2 separate regions of the Homo sapiens genome follow, and region 1 is linked to region 2. Evidence: fine-mapped expression QTL. A gene starts in region 2. The other region holds a variant in brackets. All regions are shown on one strand. Distances are from middle to middle.

Region 1 (2,913 bases), 23 kb after region 2:
AGCGTAGGTGGAGAACTTAATCGGAGGACCGTAGAAAGATACGACACTGAGAAAGATGAGTGGACGATGGTAAGCCCTTTACCTTGTGCTTGGCAATGGAGTGCAGCAGTTGTGGTTCATGACTGCATTTATGTGATGACACTGAACCTCATGTACTGTTATTTTCCAAGGTCTGACTCATGGGTAGAAATGGCCATGAGACAGACTAGTAGGTCCTTTGCTTCAGCTGCAGCTTTTGGTGATAAAATTTTCTATATTGGAGGGTTGCATATTGCTACCAATTCCGGCATAAGACTCCCCTCTGGCACTGTAGATGGGTCTTCAGTAACTGTGGAAATTTATGATGTGAATAAAAATGAGTGGAAAATGGCAGCCAACATCCCTGCTAAGAGGTACTCTGACCCCTGTGTTAGAGCTGTTGTGATCTCAAATTCTCTATGTGTGTTTATGCGAGAAACCCACTTAAATGAGCGAGCTAAATACGTCACCTACCAATATGACCTGGAACTTGACCGGTGGTCTCTGCGGCAGCATATATCTGAACGTGTACTGTGGGACTTGGGGAGAGATTTTCGATGCACTGTGGGGAAACTCTATCCATCCTGCCTTGAAGAGTCTCCATGGAAACCACCAACTTATCTTTTTTCAACGGATGGGACAGAAGAGTTTGAACTGGATGGAGAAATGGTTGCACTACCACCTGTATAGTGGGGAAGTTCAGGGAGTGCACGCCTGAGTTATGTGCTTTGTCATTTTCTTTGCTAAACAAAAGAGGCTATGAAAGAACTAAATATGAGTACATAAAATTCTATCTTTGATAAATTTTATTTTTATGCCCTACTTAATATTTGCATCAGTATAATATATATCAGTGAGTCTTACAGAAAGATATGCTTCCATAATATGAAATAGATTATTCAATAATTGAGAAACTTTATGTGTAATCATGAGAGTATAAGAATCTGGATTATCTAACATTGTTAGCCCTGTGTATGTACAGTTCAAAAAGTTCATTTATAAAAGTAGTTTCCTGTTCCTAGTGTGATGTATCACAAATTGTGCTGAGGTTATTTTAGTATGTGTGTTTCATTCCCGTGCTTCTGTTCTGAAGTCCTGGAATACAGTTTTCAGTGTAATTAATTCAACTGCACTTAACACTAATGTCCGTGTTGGTATAGAAATGTCTAAATCCTATACTCTAGTTGAGGAAGATCTTCCATAATTTTATGGTATTACACAGGGAAAGCTATGACTGCAGGATCAGTCTAACTATACTATTAGGTGCATGTATTCTCTTTTCACTAACTTATACTTGTCTATCTAGAATACAGGTCTTCCAGTCAGCTGGTCATTTACCAGGTGTGGACTTAAGTTGCTAGGCTTGCAGTAAGAATTGCCAGCCACTCATTGTGCGGGTCTGCGTGGAGCTTTAATCAGAAAAAGCCTCCACTTTCTGTATTATGTTAACATTGGCTCATGCATATAACTATCTGCTGCTGATGTAGTTCTCCATCTTCAAGATTTAGAGT[G/C]GGTTAACCAGGTCATTACATCTTAATTTAATAACAAGCATTACTGTAGAGTGATTGTGTATAGATCTGTTAGCTGTCAGGGTGTGTTTTTTTTAACCTGTTGTGTGCGTGTGGGGGTTAGGATTAGTAAGGTGAACTGTTCAGGAATTCTCTGCACTAGCTGTGCAGAAGAGCAGATAACTAGCGCTGCTCTGGCATTAATCCCAGGAACCACTAGCAGTAGTGGGGCGCCGCCAATCTAACATGAGCACAGGTGCTTCATGACAAACATTACTAGCATGTTCAACTGCACCATGTTCTGGCACTGTATTTTGAATGACATTAATTTATTAAATAAATTGTATATATTCAATATCTATTTTTCTTTTGTTATGGGAATGGTCTGCTTTTTAAATTTTGATTTTGCTAGGTCAAACTTAGCTAGTAATAGGTGGTTTCTTCCAAATTTTGTTTGATGAAGATTGAGAGATATGCATAGGCTTTCCTTAGGCTAGTGTCTTTCTACCCTGCTGGCATGTTAGAATCATCTGATTCTGATCATCATCTTTAGAAGCTTGAGATGATGCCTGAACCTCACCCCAAACAAAATGGTTTCTTTTTAGAGCACATCATTGATCATGTTTATAGACTTGAACTGCCCCTCCACTGCCTACTGAATGAAGTCCAGATTCCTTACCACATTTAAGGCTCTCTCTAATTTGGCTTTAAATTACCTTTACAGCCCTACCTTGCATTGTTTTTCCATAAGCCTTATCTTCTGATTAGGCTTTCGCTATGCTTTATGCTTTTTTATGCTATTCATGCTACTCAGAATGGTTTCTTCATCCCAACTTTACTTGCAGCTGTCTCAAGAGCTATTTAAGGCAGTTTTTAAAGAATGTTTCCTGATAACCATGTCTTACCATGAGGTGAAAAGTATCCTTTCTCACATTTTTACTACCTTGTACCTAGATCTTATTAATTGTACTGATCATTCTATTGACTATTACTAGTTTTGGCCAGGTGGGGTGGCTTATGCCTGTAATCCCAGCACTTTGGGAGGCCTAAGTGGGAGGAATGTTTGAGCCCAGGAATTTGAGACCAGCCTGGGCAACATAGGGAGACCCTGTCTCTACCAAAAAAATAAATAAATAAAATTAGCTAGTCATGGTGGTGTGTAGTCCCAGCTACTAGGGAGGCTGCAGTGGGAGAATCACTTAACCCTGGAAGGTCAAGGCTGGAGTGAGCCTTGACTGTGCCACTGCACTCCATCCTGGGTGACAAGACTGAGACCCCATCTCTAAAAGATAAGATAAATGAATATTATTAGTCTTCATGCTTTTCTACAAAATGATCAGTGTTGATTGTCTTATTTACGGCTGCATCCCCCTGCAGTGTAGCACAG
Region 2 (2,913 bases):
GTATCATTTGTTGTTGTTGTCTGCATGTTTAGACCGCATCTCTCATACCCAATCTGGCACAAAGTAGGTGCTCAAGTGTGTGTTAAATGACTTTAATCTTTTGTATAGCTTGTTTGATATCATACCACTTAACTACTTAATTAGACTAAGTACAGTGGTAGCATGCTGGAAACTCAATGAAGATTTGTTGAATGTAGTTTCCAGATTCTACAGTAAAACAATCCTTTATCAGTAGTTCCTGATAACACGCATCTTGGTGTGCATTCAGTTGATCTAGCCTAGTTTACAGGAAGAGGCTCCCTTCAGTAATGTACTGTATGGCCTTTCAGATTATAATTAGTCATCTATATTCTCTAGATTGGGCTTGTGCCAAGACTGTAAGTTAGGAAGGTAGGTGGAGTCTGTGTGGGCATTTCTGACAATTTTTTGATCCACGAATAGCTCCTAGCAAATTTACAGCCTGCCTGCCAGCAAGCTGTGCCAAGTTAACTAAAACAGTACGGGCCACAGCCATTAGCTGCTGCTACAAACGCTTCGCTTTGCGAAGCAACGCTGAAGGCGCTCTTTTGGAACTCGGGGGGTTGGGGGCGTGCAGCCGCCGCATTGCAGCACACAACGGAAGGCTTCAGACGCTGGAGCTGCCGTCCGCACCCAGATGTCTCTCTCTCCCTTTTCCCCTAACCTCCCCCAACTGCGGGCCCTTTTGGGTGCTGCTCTGACTTCTTCCTTGGCCTTGGGAAAAGCCGAAGCGGCTCTGGAGAGAGGAGGGCATGGTTTGGAGAAGAGGTGCTGCGGCAACAAAGCGACCCGCCCAACGCCTCCTCAACTTTCTCCTGCCCCCGGTCTGGTATTGTTTAGTCCTACTCATTCCCACTTTCCGAGCCAGCCTGCAAAAATCTGTATTTCAGGGGAAATTCCAAGGGATAAAACACCTCCTTCAGCATAACAATTGGTGTTTTGCTCTCTAGATTTCCTAGCAATGAACTTGTCGGGCCTCTCCATCCGCCCGTCTAGGCCCAAGGCCTCGGCCGCCGCGGCTACTCGGAGTGCCCCTCTGCCGCGCACGCGCCCCTCAAGGGCTCTCCCATGACCTTTCCCGGGAACCCCCTTCAATTACGCTTCCCGTCACCTCGCGCCGCCCCCGCCCTTCCTGCTCTTTCCGTTTCCTCTTTCGCGCCTGCGCGGCCCCAATTGTTTTGGCTTTCCGGTGGCATCCGGCAGAGGAAAAGGGCGGGGGCAGCTAGAGTAAGGGAGGGGCGGGGGACGGTCGCGAGGACCCGGGAAACTGCAAAACTGCCGCTGGTGCCGACAGGCGCGCGCGCGCGCGAGGCGGGAGGGCGGCGTGGCGAGGGCGGGCGCGGCAGGCTGGCCAGCGGTCCATTGCGCGCGCGTTCCCGGGCCGCGGGCGGGGGCGAGAGCGCGCGGCGGGGGCGGGGGCGGGGGCGGCGGGGGCGGCGGGCCCGGCGTCTCGCGGCCCCGGACTGACAAGGCGGCGCGGGCGGGCGGGCGGCGCGGCTCCCGGGGGAGGAGTCTGGCGGTGGTCGGGCCCTGAGGAGCGTGCGGCGGCGCCCGCAGAGGACGCTGCTTTCCGCGCTGGACGGACCAAGCGAGGGAGGGTGCGAGGGGAAACCGGAAGGAAGAGGCGGCGGCGCCAGCCTTCCTCGGCCGGAGGCGGAGGCGAGACCCCAGGCGAGGCCGCGGCGGGAGGGCCACGCCCCCGCCGCCGCGCCGGAGGGGCCCAGTGTGGACGGGGCCACCGGCTGGAGCGGATCCCACACCTCCGGACCGAGGGACGCGGGTGAGCAGGCGACAGTAGCGCCGGGCAGGCTGGGAGCCCGCGGCGACCTGTGGAGGGGCCGGGGAGGAGGGCTGTGGCGGGAGGGGGCTCGGCCCTTTGTGGCTCGGCGGGTGGGAGGCGGCGGCCGCGGCATCTTTCAAACCCGAGACGCTTCCGCCGCGGGCGGGGGAGGGGCGCGGGCGGCCGGCGCCGCCCTCCGCACCCCGCGGCGGCCCCAGGGCGGCGGAGCTCCGGGCAGGTCCGCGGGGAAGGGGCGGCCCGGTACGCCGCTAGCTGGGCGTTTCCGGCCCCGGCACCGGGCGCCTCGGCGCCCGCGGGGCTCCCGGGCGGCGCCTTGGCCTCGGCTCGCGCCCGCCCTTACCGAAGTAAAGCTGTTTCCCTTAAAGACTCGCGACGTGTTCGCGACATGGTGGGCCGAAGGAGGACACCCCCTTCCTTCTGTATTCCCCCCGCGTACATCTGAACTAACCAAGAGAGGTCTAGACGAACAGAGCTCCTGTTATGGTCTATATCGACTTAAAAAAGAAAGCAGAAACTGCCCTTTGAAACGGAAAATTGTGTACGTGTTTACTTTGTGAAATCTTTAACTTCCTTGAATTCGACCACCTCCTTCTCCCTACGGATTGAACAACCGGGGAATAGAAAAATCGCTTAGTTTGGTGTGGGGCGGTTATTTTGAGTTAACATCTTTTTTTCCCTTGGGCTTAGCTATCTAAGAACTCTACCTGCCTCAAAAGGTAGAGGAGCGTCCATCCCACGGGCTACCACGGTGACCCCTTCCAGTGAAAATAGGAAAAGAATTCAAAATACAAAATGAACTTTAAAAGGGTGTGTGTGTGAACTATCTTCTGTGTCAATTAGCCTTATGAAGACGTAGGCAACAGGACTGGTCACGTGTTGTTTATACTTGAATCTGTACGTCGGGCTCACAGCATTTAGGCATTGAGAAACGAAACCCTATCAACGCTGTGCACTGACCAAAATGATATTTTCTTTTATCGAGGCAACTAATTAACAGGGATCTTCCCCCTCTTCCCTCTGAGTTGTACATTTTTGCCGAATTTGAGTAGTATGGGTCTTAGATCTCTTGTAATTGTGAATGACTTAGTTTGGTT

Evidence for each region.
Region 1: its variant is fine-mapped to the expression of KBTBD2 in whole blood (INTERVAL, PIP above 0.99).

What each region holds. Positions count from the first base shown.
Region 1 is chr7:32,867,140-32,870,052 of GRCh38, reverse strand. KBTBD2 (kelch repeat and BTB domain containing 2) reads left to right here. Exons shown (of 4, transcript NM_015483.3): 4 at 1-1,881. The coding sequence ends at 708. Among named protein-coding and RNA genes, the nearest start is that of KBTBD2, 23 kb to the left of the region's middle. The variant G/C (reference allele first, on the strand shown) is at 1,530.
Region 2 is chr7:32,890,421-32,893,333 of GRCh38, reverse strand. KBTBD2 (kelch repeat and BTB domain containing 2) reads left to right here and starts at 1,574. Exons shown (of 4, transcript NM_015483.3): 1 at 1,574-1,798. RefSeq lists enhancers at 1,025-1,084, 790-1,493 and a silencer at 1,265-2,214.